Linked DNA regions of Homo sapiens: region 2 is linked to region 1. The links come from fine-mapping of genetic effects on gene expression. A gene starts in region 1. The other region holds a variant in brackets. All regions are shown on one strand. Distances are from middle to middle. Region 1 holds the start of CCDC88B (coiled-coil domain containing 88B). Region 2 holds the start of PLCB3 (phospholipase C beta 3).

Evidence for each region.
Region 2: its variant is fine-mapped to the expression of CCDC88B in whole blood (TOPMed, PIP 0.95).

What each region holds. Positions count from the first base shown.
Region 1 is chr11:64,336,563-64,344,844 of GRCh38, forward strand. It overlaps CCDC88B (coiled-coil domain containing 88B), which reads left to right and starts at 3,642. Exons shown (of 27, transcript NM_032251.6): 1 at 3,642-3,764; 2 at 4,045-4,190; 3 at 4,345-4,456; 4 at 4,547-4,616; 5 at 4,708-4,766; 6 at 4,859-4,942; 7 at 5,037-5,180; 8 at 5,432-5,577; 9 at 5,732-5,813; 10 at 5,960-6,118; 11 at 6,617-6,763; 12 at 6,945-7,053; 13 at 7,216-7,352; 14 at 7,435-8,282. The coding sequence starts at 3,705. MIR7155 (microRNA 7155) reads right to left here and starts at 5,342; the gene lies at 5,287-5,342. It overlaps LOC102723878 (a long non-coding RNA gene), which reads right to left and starts at 4,230. Exons shown (of 4, transcript NR_188518.1): 1 at 3,979-4,230; 2 at 3,338-3,516. RefSeq lists silencers at 4,181-4,260, 4,281-4,330, 6,195-6,489.
Region 2 is chr11:64,250,118-64,258,432 of GRCh38, forward strand. PLCB3 (phospholipase C beta 3) reads left to right here and starts at 1,413. Exons shown (of 31, transcript NM_000932.5): 1 at 1,413-1,631; 2 at 4,298-4,375; 3 at 4,631-4,699; 4 at 4,781-4,921; 5 at 5,117-5,196; 6 at 5,279-5,332; 7 at 5,424-5,499; 8 at 5,604-5,704; 9 at 6,259-6,425; 10 at 6,501-6,647. The coding sequence starts at 1,533. RefSeq lists enhancers at 1-205, 1,500-2,145, 2,146-2,792 and silencers at 1,225-1,694, 2,182-2,395. The variant A/T (reference allele first, on the strand shown) is at 4,256.

The sequences.
Region 1 (8,282 bases):
CCCTCAAGTAGGCCCCAGTGTCTGTTGTTCCCCTCTTTGTGTCCGTGTGTTCTCATCATTTAACTCCCACTTATGAGGGACAACATGCGGTGTTTGGTTTCCTGTTCCTGCATTAGTTTGCTAAGAATAATGGCCTCCAGCTCCATCCATGTCCCACGAAGGACATGATCTCTTTCTCTCTTTTCTTTTTTTTTTTGAGATGGAGTTTCCCTTTTGTTGTCCAGGCTGGATTGCAGTGGTGCGATTTCGGCTCACCGCAACCTCCGCCTCCTGGGTTCAAGCGATTCTCCTGCCTCAGCCTCCCGAGTAGCTGGGATGACAGGTGTGAGCCACCGTGGCTGGCTAATTTTGTATTTTTAGTAGAGATGGGGTTTCTCCATGTTGGTCAGGCTGGTCTCGAACTCCGGACCTCAGGTGATCCGCCCGCCTCAGCCTCCCAAAGTGCTGGGATTACGGGCGTGAGCCACCGTGCCCGGCCTTGATCCTTGATATTATTAATACTAAAGATAATAATCAGGTTGGGTGTGGTGGCTCACACCTGTAATCCCAGCACTTTGGGAGGCTGAGGTGGGCAGATCACCTAAGGTCGGGAGTTTGAGACCAGCCTGGCCAACATGGTGAAACCCCATCTCTACTAAAAAAAATAGAAAAATTAGTCAGGCATGGCAGCGCATGCCTGTAATCCCAGCTCTGTAGGGAGCTGAGGCAGAAGAACCGCTTGAACCCAGGAGATAGAGGCTGCAGTGAGCCGAGATTGCTCCACCACACTCCAGCGTAGGTGATAGGGCGAGACTCTGTCTCAAAAATAATAATAATAATAATAATAATCACCCCAGGGACATTTAATGAAGGCTTGTGCTGGGCATCAAGGCCTGGAATTCTGGCAACAATGAGAGGATCACTCCCATTTCCAGAGGTATTTCAAAAGGGCTGAACAGCTGGCTGTGCTCCTCTGCTACCAATCCTGCATGGCTTCCTGTGGCCTGGTCAAGCCCAGCTCACCTTGACTATGGGTGCCCCTTGCTCCTTGCACTCTTGCCCCACTGCCTTCTTTTAGTTGGCTCTGCCACTTAAAAGCTGTGTGACCTTAGGCAAATTACTTAACCTCTCTGTTCCCTCCTCTATAAAATGGAGATAATCCATAGTCCTTATTTCACAGACTAGTCCAGAGCCAACACGTTAGTAAGTGTAAAGCACTTACAACCATGCCTAGCTCAAGGGAAGCCCGTGTTTGCTATGATGTCATTATTACGCCATATTTCATCAAATCTAAGATGTTGGCCAGATGTAGTGGTGCACGCCTGTAATCCCAGCACTTTGGGAGGTCAAGGCAAGCGGATTGCTTGAGATCAGGAGTTCAAGACCAGCCTGGGCAACATGGTGAAACCCCATCTTTACAAAAAATACAAAAATTAGTTGGGTGGATGGTGGATGTCTGTGGTCCCAGATACTGAGGAGGCTGAGGTGGGAGGATCCCTTGAGCCAGGGAAGTTGAGGCTACAGTGTGTTGTGATTGCATCACTGCACTCCAGCCTGGGTGACAGAGATCCTGTCTCAAAACAAAAAACAAAAAAAAACTAAGATGTCATCGATTATAAAAATGTCACTAAGAAAAGAGAATGCTGCCAGTTAACGATGTCCCAAGGTTCTTTCATCACTAGAATTTTTCTTTTGTATTTCTCGAAAGAGCTCTGTTTCACTTAAATGTAGATTCTTATCATATATAATTCTCATGCACACATAAAAAGGATAATAGAAGCAAAATAAATTGGTTACCATGTTCAGAAAACTCCTTCACATTTAGAGTCCAACTTGTTTGAATCATTTTTGGTCTGAGAGTCGTGATGTCTGTGTCTGCCTGCCACCTCCTTCTCTGAGTCCTTGAGAGTTCTACGGAGAGCAGTACTGCTCCAAACATTCCATAAAACAGCCAGGCGCTCTTAAGCCAGCTTTACAATTGTGCAGATGAAGTGGAGCCGAGTTTTCACTCTGCTCTAGGAGTGTCACTGACAGGCCGGGCGTGGTGGCTCACACCTGTAATCCCAGCACTTTCAGAGGCCGAGGTGGGTGGATTGCCTGAGGTCAGGAGTTCGAGACCAGCCTGGCCAACATGGTGAAACCCTGTCTCTACTAAAAACACAAAAAAGCATCTGGGCGTGGTGGCAGGTGCCTATAATCCCAGCTACTCAGGTGGCTGAGGCAGGAGAATTGCTTGAACCCGGGAGACGGAGGTTGCAGTGACCCGAAATTGCACCATTACACTCCAGCCTAGGCGACAGACACAGCGAGACTCCGTCTCACCAAAAAAAAAAAAAAAAAAAAAAAGGGAGTGTCACTGACAAGCCTGGTTCCCTTCCCCTGGGGTTTCCCACCATTTGAGTCCCAGGGCTAAAAAGGGTTCTGCTTGCCTCTAGGATTTCTTCCAAGCTGCTGACACTCTTCTGAAGGATTTGATGCTGGTGCTTTTCAGGTGTGGGTCCTGACAGTGATGTTGGGACGGCAGCTAGCCAGACAGCAACTGTACCATGTAAACTCACTTCAGAGGTGTAGAATGGGGGCTGCGTGAGGCAGCTCATGCCGTCATCTCAGCCCTTCAGGAGGCCAAGGCGGGAGGATCACTTGAGCCCAGGAGTTCGAGACCAGCCCGGGCAACACAGCAAGACTCTGTCTGTACAAAAAACAAGCAAAATAATTAGCCAGGTGTGGTGGCACACACCCGTAGTCCCAGTTACTCAGAAGGCTGAAGTAGGAGAATTGCTTAAGCCCAGGAGGTTGAAGTTGCAGCGAGTTGTGATCTTGCAACTGCACTCCAGACTAGGTCACAGATTCAGACTCTGTCTCTTAAAAACAAAACAAAACAAAAAGTGAAACGTGAACATTAAGCATCTTGGAATAGATAAAACATGCATAATTTCCAATCTTTTTGCTGACCATGCTTCCAGCTGCCTCAGAGCAGTTGCACATTCTGTTCCTGCTGCCTGGAATACCCTCCCTTCCTTTCCACTTTGCCCTGTTAACCCAGCCATCCCTGATCTCATGCGTACTCCAGGATGCCTTCCCTGATCATCCTGCCGAGGTCAAATCCCCTCCCCTTCATAGCACCTAGTATGGCTACAACAGTCTCGAGTGTATAGAGGATGGGGTGGGGTGAGGTCACAGGAATGATGCTCCCTTCTATCTGGGGTTCAAGGGAGGCTTCTTGGAGGAGCATCTGAACCAGGCTTCCCAGGGGATGTGGTTTGGGTAACTTTGAGAAATACTGAAGGGAAAAGAAAGAACGCTGTAGTGAGTGAAGCCTGGCATTTGGGAAGATGGGTGTGTGGGTGACCAAACTCACCACGCAAGGCCCAGAGCCCTTTTGAGGCCCTCGAAGGTCCCAGGCTGGGGTCATCCTCTCCAGTTTCAGTTTGAGAAAACAAGGCCCAGAGAGGTGAAGGGCTGTTCGGTCATTGCCCATGGAGCCAGGGGAGCTGTGGGCCTTCCGCCGCCAACCTCTGGGCTAGCCCTGCAGAGATGCTAGGAGGATGCAGGGAGGTGAGGTGGGGGCTGAGGTAGGACTCAGACTGCCCAGGCCCGCCTGCACCCGGAAGGAGGAAGCTGCACAGGGTGTCTGTGGCTGGCCCCGGGATCCCCCACTCGGGGACTTCCTCTTCCTCTCAGGGCAGGTGCAGCTGCCACAGTGAGACGGGCACCCCGACCCGGGCATGGAGGGGGGCAAGGGGCCCAGGCTCAGAGACTTCCTGAGTGGGAGTCTGGCTACCTGGGTGAGGGGGCAGGTGGCAGCGGGTTGGGGAGGGGAAGTGAGCCCCAGCCAGGGGCTGGTGTTGGCGCTGGCCGGGGGAGGGTGAGGCAGAACCAGGCCGGAGGGGAGGGCTGGGTTCAAATGTGGGGGATGGAGATATGGTGTGGGGGGCTGTGGTGAGGGAAGAGGGGACAGAGGCACTCAGAGGACGGGTGAGAAGGGGTGCTTGGGCTCACTGGGGCAGGTCGGAGGGGCTCAGGGTTCACTCTGCTGGTCGGCTGACCCCTCTGGGCTCCTCACAGGCGCTGGGACTGGCCGGGCTGGTCGGGGAGGCGGAGGACTCGGAGGGGGAAGAAGAGGAAGAGGAGGAAGAGCCGCCCCTTTGGTTGGAGAAGAGATTCCTGCGCCTCAGCGATGGGGCCCTGCTCCTCCGGGTGCTGGGCATCATGTAAGGGGCATCGGGCCGGGGCGGTGGCGGGGAAGGATCTGAGAGGAGGGGAAGCGGGTGGGCGGAGCCTGATGCTCAGTGGGCGGGGCCTGAGGGACGGTGGGCGAGGCCTGTTGACGGGAGGCGGGTCCTCGAGCCCACCTCCGGCTCATAGTGCCCCCAGCTCCCGAGGGGGACCTCGGATGCTCAGAGGCCTTGACGGACCTGCTGCCTGGCGAGTGTGGAACCTGAACCACCTGTGGGGCCGACTGAGGGACTTCTACCAGGTAAGGGGTCTCGAGGGAAAGGCGGAGACAGGAGGGGAAGAGGAGCCCCTTCGGGAAGGCGCCTCATATAGTCTGCCTCTCTGCCTCCAGGAGGAGCTGCAGCTGCTGATCCTGTCGCCACCCCCAGACCTCCAGACATTGGGATTTGACCCTCTCTCAGGTGCTCTCCCCACCCACACCCTCCTGCCTCTGCCCCCGCACTACTCTACCTTCCCCGCCCCAGTTAACCCCTTGTGGCATGTGCCTTGCAGAAGAAGCGGTGGAGCAGCTGGAAGGCGTTCTTCGGCTACTGTTGGGAGCGTCAGTACAGGTGAGCCGGCGGTGGGAAGGAAAGGTTAGGGTCGAGCTTTGGCGGTAGAGGAGGGAGATCCTGCACCAGCTCCCCTTCCTGTCTCCCCTCAGTGTGAGCACCGGGAACTCTTCATCCGCCACATCCAGGGCCTCAGTCTCGAGGTCCAGAGCGAGCTGGCCGCTGCCATCCAGGAGGTACTGAGACGGTTCGGCAGCCCAGACTGGTATGGCACCTGGGACGCCCTTGCCACACCGCGGCTTCCACTGAACTGCTCTTCCTGCGCCCCAGGTGACCCAGCCGGGGGCCGGCGTGGTGCTGGCACTGTCTGGGCCAGATCCTGGGGAGCTGGCACCTGCCGAGCTGGAGATGCTGTCCCGGAGCCTGATGGGGACACTGTCGAAGCTGGCACGGGAGCGTGACCTGGGGGCCCAGGTAGGGGCAGCAGGGGCATCGTGGACTCAGGTTGGGGAACTGGAGGACCATCAGGGAGCCGGTTGTGCAAGGGAGATGGAAGTTTGGGGCCCAGGCATGGGGTTGTGGTCTGAGGTCTTGGGCCATCAGTGATGTCACAACCAGATGGCCCAAGACCCCAGACCACAACCCCATGTCTGGTGTTGTGGTTGGGGGTCGATGTGCAGAGGCATTGGATAAGTTAGTCCTGACCCTTGACCCCTGACCTACAGCGGCTGGCTGAACTGCTGCTGGAGCGAGAACCCCTCTGCTTGAGGCCTGAGGCTCCCTCTAGGGCTCCCGCCGAGGGCCCCTCGCACCATCTGGCCCTGCAGCTGGCCAACGCCAAGGCTCAGCTGCGGCGTCTGCGGCAGGAGCTGTGAGTGTGCGCAGCCTGGGAAGGGGACTGAGTGGAGAGGGGCAGATTAAGCCTGGATGGGACCCTAGCCCTGGTGGCTACGGGAGGGGTCAGGCCTGGGAAGGGCTGGGGGTTGTGGGCCCCCAGACCCTCCCTAGACTCCCCTTCCCTCCAGGGAGGAGAAGGCCGAGCTGCTGCTAGACTCCCAGGCCGAGGTGCAGGGTTTGGAGGCCGAAATAAGAAGGCTCCGCCAGGAGGTGCGCTCACATGCTCCCCGCCACCGCGGCATTCCCTAACCTCCCCGCACCCGGTCCCATTGCCTCCCTCCCAACCCGGCTCCTTCCCGTCCCTAATCCCTCTGGCCCGCGGCTGGCTGTTCCCAGCTCCACACCGTCTGGCCCAGGCCCAGGCGCTGTCGGGACAGGCCAAGCGGGCCGAGCTGTACCGCGAGGAGGCAGAGGCGCTGCGGGAGCGGGCCGGCCGCCTGCCCCGCCTGCAGGAGGAGCTGAGGCGCTGCCGCGAGCGGCTGCAGGCGGCTGAGGCCTACAAGAGTCAGCTGGAGGTGAGGCGGAGACGGAGCCGCGGGGCGGGGCGTGCGCGAGGGGGCGGGCCAGGAGGAGGGGCGAGATTGGGTCCCGAGGGCAGAGAGGCAGGTTCTCTGGAGGGGACAGTCACAGGTGGAGAAATGGGTGAGGACAAATTCAGGGAGGTGGCGTCTGGGAAAGGGCCTCCAGAGGATGGGGCAGGTGTAGGGGAGTGGGGGGGCTGTGTAAGTGATGCAGCCTTGGAAGGAGGGCTGTTCCCGGGGGGGAGGGGCGGGGCATGGACAGAAGGGCGGGGCCTGCACAAAGGGCGGGGCCAGGGGCGAGGGAGAAAGTACCTGAAGAGATCTTGGTGGGAAGAAGATGGAAGGGAGTGGCGGGGCCTAGAGACTGATGGGGTGCAGGGTGGGGGAGGGAGGCAGGGTCTGTGACAGGCTGAGGGGAAGGAGTTTGGGACCCTCAGGCGCTGGAGTGCATGGGGGCTGCGTGGCTACCGGTTCTCCCTGCTCTCCCACCAGGAGGAGCGGGTGCTCTCGGGGGTGCTGGAGGCGTCCAAGGCGCTGCTGGAAGAGCAGCTGGAGGCTGCCCGAGAGCGCTGCGCCCGGCTGCACGAGACCCAGCGCGAGAACCTGCTGCTGCGAACCCGGCTGGGCGAGGCCCATGCGGTAAGGTAGCCAGAGTGATCCCACTTGGGTTGCCCCGTCACCCCATGACCCCATTGATTCCCTAGTGGTCCCTAGTGATTCTTGCAACCTCTGCTCTTGGTGACCTCTAGTGACCCTCCGACCTACACACTCGGCCTGGCCATGGTGTGGAGGGCTTGTCTGACCCTTCCCTCACCCCCAGGAGCTGGACTCTCTGCGGCATCAGGTGGACCAGCTGGCTGAGGAGAATGTGGAGCTGGAGCTGGAGCTTCAGCGGAGCTTGGAGCCACCTCCAGGATCCCCTGGGGAGGGTGAGGGACCCCACTGGAAGGGCTGGGGTGGGGGCTTCCTATGCTTTCCAGCAGTGTACTGGGGAGAGCCTCTGACTCCCTCCCTTCTCCCAAGCCTCTGGGGTGTGTATGTGAGGAGCCAGGCAGTAAAGGAGGGGTCCTGACCTCATCTCTCATCCTCAGCACCCCTAGCAGGAGCGGCCCCCTCGCTGCAAGATGAGGTGAGGGAGGCAGAGGCTGGGCGGCTTCGGACCCTTGAGAGGGAGAACCGGGAGCTTCGGGGGCTGCTTCAGGTGCTTCAGGGGCAGCCAGGGGGCCAGGTAAGTCCCCTCCCCCAGGGTCCTGGCCGGCCCTTCCCCTAGTCCCTCCCTGGGCCTGACTGTCCCTCTCGTATGCCCTCAGCACCCCCTGCTGGAGGCACCGAGAGAGGACCCTGTTCTTCCAGTGCTGGAGGAGGCTCCCCAGACTCCTGTGGCCTTCGACCACAGCCCTCAGGGCTTGGTTCAGAAGGCAAGGGATGGAGGCCCCCAGGCCTTGGACTTGGCTCCCCCGGCATTAGACTCAGTGCTCGAGGCATCAGCTGAGTGTCCCCAGGCACCTGATTCAGACCCACAGGAGGCAGAGAGTCCCCTTCAGGCAGCTGCCATGGACCCCCAGGCCTCAGACTGGTCCCCGCAAGAGTCAGGCTCTCCTGTGGAGACACAGGAGTCCCCGGAGAAGGCTGGCCGTAGATCCTCTCTCCAGAGCCCTGCCTCTGTGGCCCCACCTCAGGGTCCAGGGACCAAAATTCAGGCCCCGCAGTTGCTGGGAGGAGAGACAGAGGGAAGAGAGGCTCCCCAAGGCGAGTTGGTGCCTGAGGCCTGGGGGTTGAGACAGGAGGGCCCTGAGCACAAGCCAGGGCCTTCGGAGCCCAGCTCTGTGCAGCTGGAGGAGCAGGAGGGCCCAAACCAGGGCCTGGACCTGGCCACGGGACAAGCAGAGGCCAGAGAGCATGACCAGAGGCTGGAAGGGACGGTCAGGGACCCAGCCTGGCAAAAACCACAGCAGAAGTCAGAAGGGGCTCTTGAGGTCCAGGTCTGGGAAGGCCCAATCCCAGGGGAGAGCCTGGCCAGTGGTGTCGCAGAGCAGGAGGCCCTCAGGGAGGAGGTGGCACAGTTGAGGAGAAAGGCTGAGGCCCTTGGAGATGAGCTGGAAGCCCAGGCCCGCAAGCTGGAGGCCCAAAACACGGAGGCTGCCCGCCTCTCCAAGGA
Region 2 (8,315 bases), 86 kb before region 1:
GCCACTAGCAAGAGGCTGCTAGCAAGAGCCGGATTTGAACTCCAGCCTGTGAGGGCAGAGGCCAAGCTCCACCTTGCATGGTTCTGTTTTCCCAATGAGGTCTAGAGGCTCCTGGGCCTCAGGAAGTCGGAGGGTTGAAATCCTCCTAAGAAGCTGTGTGACCTTGGGCAAGTCCCTTCCCCTCTCTGGGCCTCAAGTGGAGATCATAATCACACCCCACAGGGCCAGGGCTGAGAGCGAGGAGATCCGCCAGGTTAGAGTTGATGGAGAACTTGGCGGGGTGTGGAGGAAGGCCAGGGCCAGGCAGGGCTCCTTGTGGAGGTCTCAGAGCCTGGGGCAAAGGGGCCTGCAGGGGAGCTCCTCCTTTGCTGACCCCTCCTCCCCCAGAGCCAGCTGCATCTCTTTCTGGGTTTCTAGGTGACTTGGCTGGCCCCTCTGGATGAGTTCTACTTTAAACCTGCTGCTGTTACTGCCTCTGTATTGGGGGGGCTCCCACAGGGGCCCCCAGGCAGGAACCCCCCCCACCAGCTAAGCCCTGCGGGAGGGGCTGCAGCCCCCACCCATCCCATTGCCCATGCGCCTTCCCCGCTCCCATCTCTGGAACGCAGATTTCAGGGCACCTGCTGTGGGCCAGGCACTGCAGAGCCCCTCCTCAACCCTCCTGTCTGGGGACATCCACAAAGCTTCTGACCCCTCTGGGCAGACAACAGCGTTCCCCCCGCGGTTCCCAGCCAAGAGGCTCACAGTCAGGTTCCAGTCATGGGAGTCTGCAGCAACAAGAAGGGGGCTGTTCTAGGGCTCACTCTCGAAGACCAGGATGCTTGGGTCCTTAAAGGAGGTGGCAGGCGCCCGGCCTCCCTGGGCTAGGGACGGGGGAGGGGTGCCTGCCGGCGGGAGGTCCATTAGCCGGCTAAGTGCTCCCAGGGAGGGGGGACCGCGCGGCATAAGAGTGGGTGAGGCGAAGCCAGGGCAGAGGGGGGCGGAAGAAGCTTTTCCTGCATTCAGCTAAGTGCGGCAGAAGAGGGTGGGCGACAGGGCTGTGCAGCGACCCCCCGGCCCAAGTCTAGCCCTCCGCTGGTACTGCAGCCCTAGTCGCTCGGAAACCTCAGTGGGCTGATCCCGGACCGCCTTAAGCAGCGCCCTCTACACCCAGTCCCTCCAGCTGCTCCCCAACAGCCACTTCGGCCCCCAGCGCCCTCCTTCCACCACAGGCCTGAAGAATCAGGTTCTGCTGAGCCCCGCAGCAAAGCCCCCGACCCGTCCGCGTGCCCCTGCCCCAATCCCCGCTCCGGCTGCAGTCGCCGCCCCGGCCGCCAGGGGGAGCCGACGCGGTGGGAGGGGGCGGGGCCCGGGAGGCCCCGCCCCGTCCCCGCCCCGCCCGGGCCCCGCCGAGGCTCTGGTCGGTCCGGGACAGACTGGCGGGCGGGCGGGCACTGACGCCGCGGGGCCGGAGCGGGCCGCGCGGTGGGAGCAGCGGCGCCGTCGGTCCCCGTCAGGGCTCCGTGGGTCCCCGACCCGCCCCTGGCCGGGCCATGGCGGGCGCCCAGCCCGGCGTCCACGCGCTGCAGTTGGAGCCGCCCACCGTGGTGGAGACCCTGCGGCGCGGGAGTAAGTTCATCAAATGGGACGAGGTAAGCGCGCGGGCCCCTGCTCCGCCCAAATCCCGGGACTCTTTCAGTCAAGCTCGACCAGACGCTGGGGACCCCCACCCCAGCCTCGCCTGCCCGTGGCGCCACCCTCATCCCAGTCTGGCGGCGCCCCGGAAACTTAAGTCCCCGATCGTCTCCGTAATGAAGACTTTGTCCCCCCAACTCCCAGTCCCTCAGCTCTGGAAAATTTGCCTCCACTCCTTGGCGCAGAGACTTTGAACCCCAATAAACCCCGTCCCCCCGTTTTCCATTCGTTCTTCCCACCGCTCCCTGCCAGACTAATTCTCGTTCCCCGATCCTGGCCTGGTGCCCAGACCCCTGCCCAGCACTAGACTCCCCGGCTGCAGGACCCTGACTTCCAGGCTGGCTGGGGGCATCCTCATTCTGGGTGTGTGCCAGGGCGCCCCTACTCTCCCCGGTGCCCTGCCTGAACAGTCCTCGTCCATTCATCATTTTTCCCCCTGTTCTGGTTGGCACCCCTTCGCCCTGCTTCTGGATCCCAGCCCAGCTCCCTGTTCAGATGGGAGCACCCAGTCACCCCCTAGTGGAGACTTTGCCCCCCAAGTTCCTCCACCCCTGGGAACTTTGCTCCCCACTCCTTAGGCTTGGGACCTTGAACCCCAATACATCCTGGCCCCCCTTTCCCTGTCCTGCCCCTGGTGCTTCCCAAATGCCTGTGTCCCCACCTTCGGCTGCCCATCCCCATCCTGGGTGCATCCTCTTCTGCCCCCTGGGCCCTTCCTTCCCTAGGGCCTCCACCCGGCCGGCCTGAGCTTCCTCGCAGCTCCTTCCCAGTCAGGCCACGGGCCTGGAAGACTCTGGGCTCTTTTCCGGCTGGGTGGGGCCCCGGGGTAGGCGTGGGAGCTGGGGGGAGGAGATGGGGGCGTGGCCTGAAGCGGCAGGTGTGCGAGGTGGGGTGCCTGGGGGCCCCAGGGGCCGGGGGAGACCCCTCCCCCCAGGCTGGCCTGAAGGGAAAAGTTTCTTCTTTTCATTCCACTGTGATAAACCCAAATAAGGAAGTGGGAACAGGGAGAGGGCCCTGGGGGTGGGGTGGGGGGTGCTGACGGAGGCTTGGGGCAGGAGAGCAGGGGACCTGGGCTGCCTTTGAGGTCCAGACCCCTGGGGAGAGGTGGGAGGGAAACACTAGGGGCAGTACCCATAGACTCCCCGCTCTGCACACCATTCGGGGGCCTCAGGCCCAGGGTAGGGTTGGGAATCCGGAGAAGTGCTGGGGCTGGGTGTCAGCACACTGAAGTGGGGAGGCCCATGCATCCCCAAATTTTGGGGGCCTTCTGTTCCCAGATGAACGCCCATCTTTTGTAAGCAAAGCCTGCCATGGGTGGGGCTGGTGCAATCCCCATTCTCCAGAAGAGGAAACTGAGGTCTGGAAAGCAGAGAGTTATCCCAGGCCCCACAATGGGGTGTGGCTGAGGCCAGGAGCCGGGAGCCTGGCAGAAGTCTCCGCTCCCTGCTTCCCAGGTCACAGGACGCTGCAACCACACTGCCTGCAAGCAGGTCCTGGCTCCAGTGATCTCGGGCAGGCTACGAAGTGTCCCTGTAACTCAGTGTCCTCATCTGTAAAATGGGAGTGACAACAGCACATGCCTCTTAGGCTGGTTAGGAGGCCTTTGTGTGCTCGAAGATGCTAGGTGCATAGAACTGTACCTGGTGCGCAGTAGGGGCGGTGTGCGTATATGAGATGTATTGATAATAATAGTATTGTCCACCAGACACTGAGATGCATTTTGGGGGTGGCACCCAACATGAGGTGGGGTCCTTTTCTGTCTGGAAGAACCTGGAATAGGAGGGTTCTACCTGTAGCCACTTGTTCACTCTGGCCCTGGCCGAGTCTAAGCCCTGGAGGACAGCCCCTCTGGCTGCTGGTCCTGAGTCACACAGGGTGGCCCTGGTAGTGTGCCAGGGACCGGGCCCTTCTTAGAAAATGGGGCTGGCATGCACTTCCCTGCCCCCTGCCAGCTGCACGGCTGTTTGAGGGAGGAAGAGCTCACTGCCCAGTCCTGAGAGTAGGGCAAGTCCCCTTCTAGGGGGACTGTTCTTCTACGAGATGGGGATGAGCTTTGAGGCTGTGAGGACCCCGGCAGATGTGGTAAGGTGGATAATGGGCTTTGAGGCAGACCACAGGGCTATCGTGATGTCCCAAGGGATGCAGAAGGGCAGTGGGAGTCAGACTTCTCACTTTCATGCCTTAAACATTCTGCAGTGGGGTGGATTGGGGGGCTGCCACTGTCACAGAGCTCTCAGCACTTCTGGGGAAACTGAGCCCAGGATGGGGGCTGGGGACCTCTTCCAGGGGGTGGGTCAGATTTCACGGGTGGAGAAGGAAGGGCAGGGTGTCCTGGCAAAGGGAACATGAGACAAAGCCCTGGGAAAGGTCAGGTAGAATCCTAGGGCCAGAGGGAGGTGAGGCTGGGAAGAGGCTTTGAGGTAGGTGTGACACTAAATGTCACACCTAGGACCTTGGCTTTGTTCTGAGGGCCACAGGCAGCCACACAGGACCTGTGGACTGGATGAGGTTTCGTCTTAGCTCATGGGCAGGAACTCTGGGGTGCATGATGGGAGGGCCCCAGGGGCCAGGCCTGCACCAC[A/T]GCCCTCACTTCCTGACCCCTGCTGCCCTGTGCTGTCCTCAGGAGACCTCCAGTCGGAACCTGGTGACCCTGCGTGTGGACCCCAATGGCTTCTTCTTGTACTGGACGGGCCCCAACATGGTGAGGGTGGGCGCTGGTGCAGCTCGCTCAGGCCAAGGACCCCTGTCCCAGACCCCTGCCCTGCCCGTGGGGGTGGGGCCCGGCTGCAGGCTGACCTCTCCCACTGCTGCCCAGACAGGAAGTGCTCAGGGCAGGAGCTGAGGCTGGGGCTATAGCCAGGGGCTGGCCATTCCCTGGCCTGGGTAGAGAGCTTGGAAGCTCCTGGCTATTGCCCTGCAGCCTCTCATACTCAGCCTGGCATCTGGTTCCCCCCAGGAGGTGGACACACTGGACATCAGTTCCATCAGGGACACACGGACAGGCCGGTACGCCCGCCTGCCCAAGGTGAGTGATGAGCCTGGGAGTGAAGACCACAGCGAGGCTGTGCGGGAGCCCCCTCTTCACCCTTCGCTGTCACCTACTCAGGACCCCAAGATCCGGGAAGTTCTGGGCTTTGGGGGTCCCGATGCCCGGCTGGAGGAGAAGCTGATGACGGTGGTGTCTGGGCCAGACCCAGTGAACACAGTGTTCTTGAACTTCATGGCCGTGCAGGATGACACAGCCAAGGTGGGCTGGCACCAAGGGGACGAAGGGGGAGTCACTGTCTTATTCTGTGAGTCGGCCGTCACTTACCGAACACCTGCTGTGTTCTAGGCTGCTCTGTGACCTACTGTGTACCAGAGGCAGTTGTGGACCTGGGTTGTGGCTGGGCAGCCCCTGTGTCCCCCACTCACCGCCTCCCCGTGTATACTGGCCCCCCAGGTCTGGTCTGAGGAGCTATTCAAGCTGGCTATGAACATCCTGGCTCAGAACGCCTCCCGGAACACCTTCCTGCGCAAAGCGTGAGCCCCAGGCCACCCGAGGGGGAGCCGGGGGGTTCACGTGGCCGTTTTCAGGGTGTGACCTCTTCATCTGCCTTCCCAGATACACGAAGCTGAAGCTGCAGGTGAACCAGGATGGTCGGATCCCCGTCAAGAAGTGAGCACCCCTTCCCCCAGCACCTTCCTCCTGCCCTGACCTTGGTGACCTTTGTCCTCCACTGACCCTGAACCCCTCCTGCCCGCATCAGCATCCTGAAGATGTTCTCAGCAGACAAGAAGCGGGTGGAGACTGCGCTGGAATCCTGTGGCCTCAAATTCAACCGGGTGTGTGGGGTGGGGACAGGGGCGGGGTGGGGTGTCACGGTGGGCACCCACCCTTACGGGGCTGCCCGCCCCTGGCTTCTCACCCCACACTCCTCGACCTCCAGAGTGAGTCCATCCGGCCTGATGAGTTTTCCTTGGAAATCTTTGAGCGGTTCCTGAACAAGCTGTGTCTGCGGCCGGACATTGACAAGATCCTGCTGGAGATGTGAGTGGGCCCGGCCTGCCTCACAACCCCTGTGCTCTGTGTTTAGCTTCTGCTTAGCGTGCCTCTAGCTCAATGGGGAGAGGGGAAACTGGTGGGCCGGGTCCTGGAGCGCCAGGGGGCGGAGGGGTGCCCAGGGAGAACCTGTCGGTGATGTTCCTGTACTCAGACCCGCCGTTTCTGCCCCTCAGTTACAGGCAGCTCTGGGCTAACCCTGTGCCAGGGTTGGTTTAATCAGCCCACTCTGCAATGGGGTCCAAGCCTCAGGTGTGTTGTGAGGTCTGGAAGCGAGGGGTGGTGGGCTGACCACTTGGCAGCTCCTAAGCCCTGGCCATTGCTGGTGCCCACTAGTCTGCTGCCTTGACAATCCTGAGTAGTCAGGAGAGTAAAGGGGGAAACTGAGGCCCAGAGGTTGGCCATGACTCACCCAGAGTCCCACTCACTGGGTGCCAGATCCAGGGGCAGGCCTTCTGACTCCCTTGCCCAGGGCAAGGGCTTGGCGACGGGGTGGGAGCCCTGCCAGGCTCCATCCTGACCCAGCTTCCTGTCCCCTCCAGAGGCGCCAAGGGCAAGCCATACCTGACGCTGGAGCAGCTCATGGACTTCATCAACCAGAAGCAACGCGACCCGAGACTCAACGAAGTGCTGTACCCGCCCCTGCGGCCCTCCCAGGCCCGGCTGCTCATCGAAAAGTATGAGCCCAACCAGCAGTTTCTGGAGCGAGGTGAGCTGGCTGGGGTGCAGGTGGGTGGGGGCAGGTGGGACCCCAGCTGACCCTGCTGATCCTCTCCCACCCCAGACCAGATGTCCATGGAGGGCTTTAGCCGCTACCTGGGAGGCGAGGAGAATGGCATCCTGCCCCTGGAAGCCCTGGATCTGAGCACGGACATGACCCAGCCACTGAGTGCCTACTTCATCAACTCCTCGCATAACACCTATCTCACTGGTGAGTGGGGAGCAAGGGTGGCACCCGTGACCTCTGCCCTGTGACCCTTGCACAGCCCCACTCCTCCTGGGGCACAGTCCTTTTGGCCCATTTGCTCATTCATTGGCCAGTGCTGGGGATGCAGGCAGGGAACAGGCAGCCAGCCCTGAGCAGTGGGGCCTCATGGTGGCTTTCCCAGGGAAGGGCTGGAACAGCTTGTGTTAGGGCCTGCAGCAGGAGAGACTTCAGGGTCCTTTTTTTTTTTTTTTTTTTTTTTTGAGACAGAGTTTCGCTCTTGTTGCCCAGGCTGGAGTGCAATGGCACGATCTAGGCTCAGCGCAACCTCTGCCTCCCAGGTTCAAGCGATTCTCCTGCCTCAGCCTCCCAAGTAGCTGGGATTACAGGCATTCGCCACCACGCCCGGCTAATTTTGTATTTTTAGTAGAGATGGGGTTTCTCCATGTTGGTCAGGCTGGTCTCAAACTCTCAACCTCAGGTGATCCGCCTGCCTCGCCCTCCCAAAGTGCTGGGATTATAGGCATGAGCCACCTCGCCCAGCCTGCAGGGTGCTTTTAAGAGGCTGGAAGGGGGTTGGGTGCGGTGACTCATGCCTGTAATCCCAGAACTTTGGGAGGCTGAAGCAGGCAGATTACTTGAGCCCACGTTTTGAGACCAGTCTGGGCAACATAGCATGACCCCATCTCTACAAATAATTTTTAAAAAATTAGCTGGGCATAGTGGCGCATGCCTGTGGTCCTAGCTGCTTGGGAGGGTGAGGTGGGAGTATCGCTTGGTTCTGGGAAGGTTGAGGCAGGAGTAAGCTGTGATTGCACCACTGCACTCCAGCCTGGGTGACAGAGTGAGAGACCCTTTTCTAAAAAAAAAAATTAAATAAATAATAAAAAAGCAGAAAGGAAGCTGGTGCGGCAGGGTGCAGAGTGCTGGAGATAGGTGCCTGCTAAGAGAGGGAGAGCAAGGCAGGGCTAAGCCCAGGGGCCTAGAGGCACTTGGATTCATCCTGGGTGTGAGGAAGAGGCTTTTTGGAGGGTGAAGCAGAAGAGGTGATGTGACCTGATATGATATGTTTTTAGAAGGATGATGCCAGGTGCTCTATAGAGATTGGATTGAGGCCAGGCACAGTGGTTCACACCTGTAATCCCAGAACTTTGAAAGGCTGAGGCGTGTGGATCACCTGAGGTCAGGAGTTCGAGACCAGCCTGGCCAACATGGTGAAACCCCATCTCTACTAAAAATACAAAAATTAGCCAGGCATGGTGGTGGGCAACTGTAATCCCAGCTACTCGGGAGGCTGAGGCAGGAGAATCGCTTGAACCAGGGAGGCGGAGGTTGCAGTGAACCGAGGTTGTGCCACTGCACTCCAGCCTGGGTGACAGAGCGAGGTTCCGTCTCAAAAAAAAAAAAAAAAGAGATTGGATTGGAGGCAGGGAGGGCTGGAGTCTTCCACACAGGAGGTGGTGTGAGCTGTGCCAGGGCTGAGGTGGGTGGAGGGAGTGAGGAGAGGGAGGGATTGTTGAGGCAGTGGGGAGCTATAGTGAGTCTCAGGGATGACTCCCCCCAGCTCACGCTGGTGGGATGGACAGGTGGTGGGTATCCATCTGAGAGATGGAGAGCCCTCTGCAAATCCAGCATGTCCTGGTTCCAGGTGGGGCCGGGGTGGTGAGGAGCTGG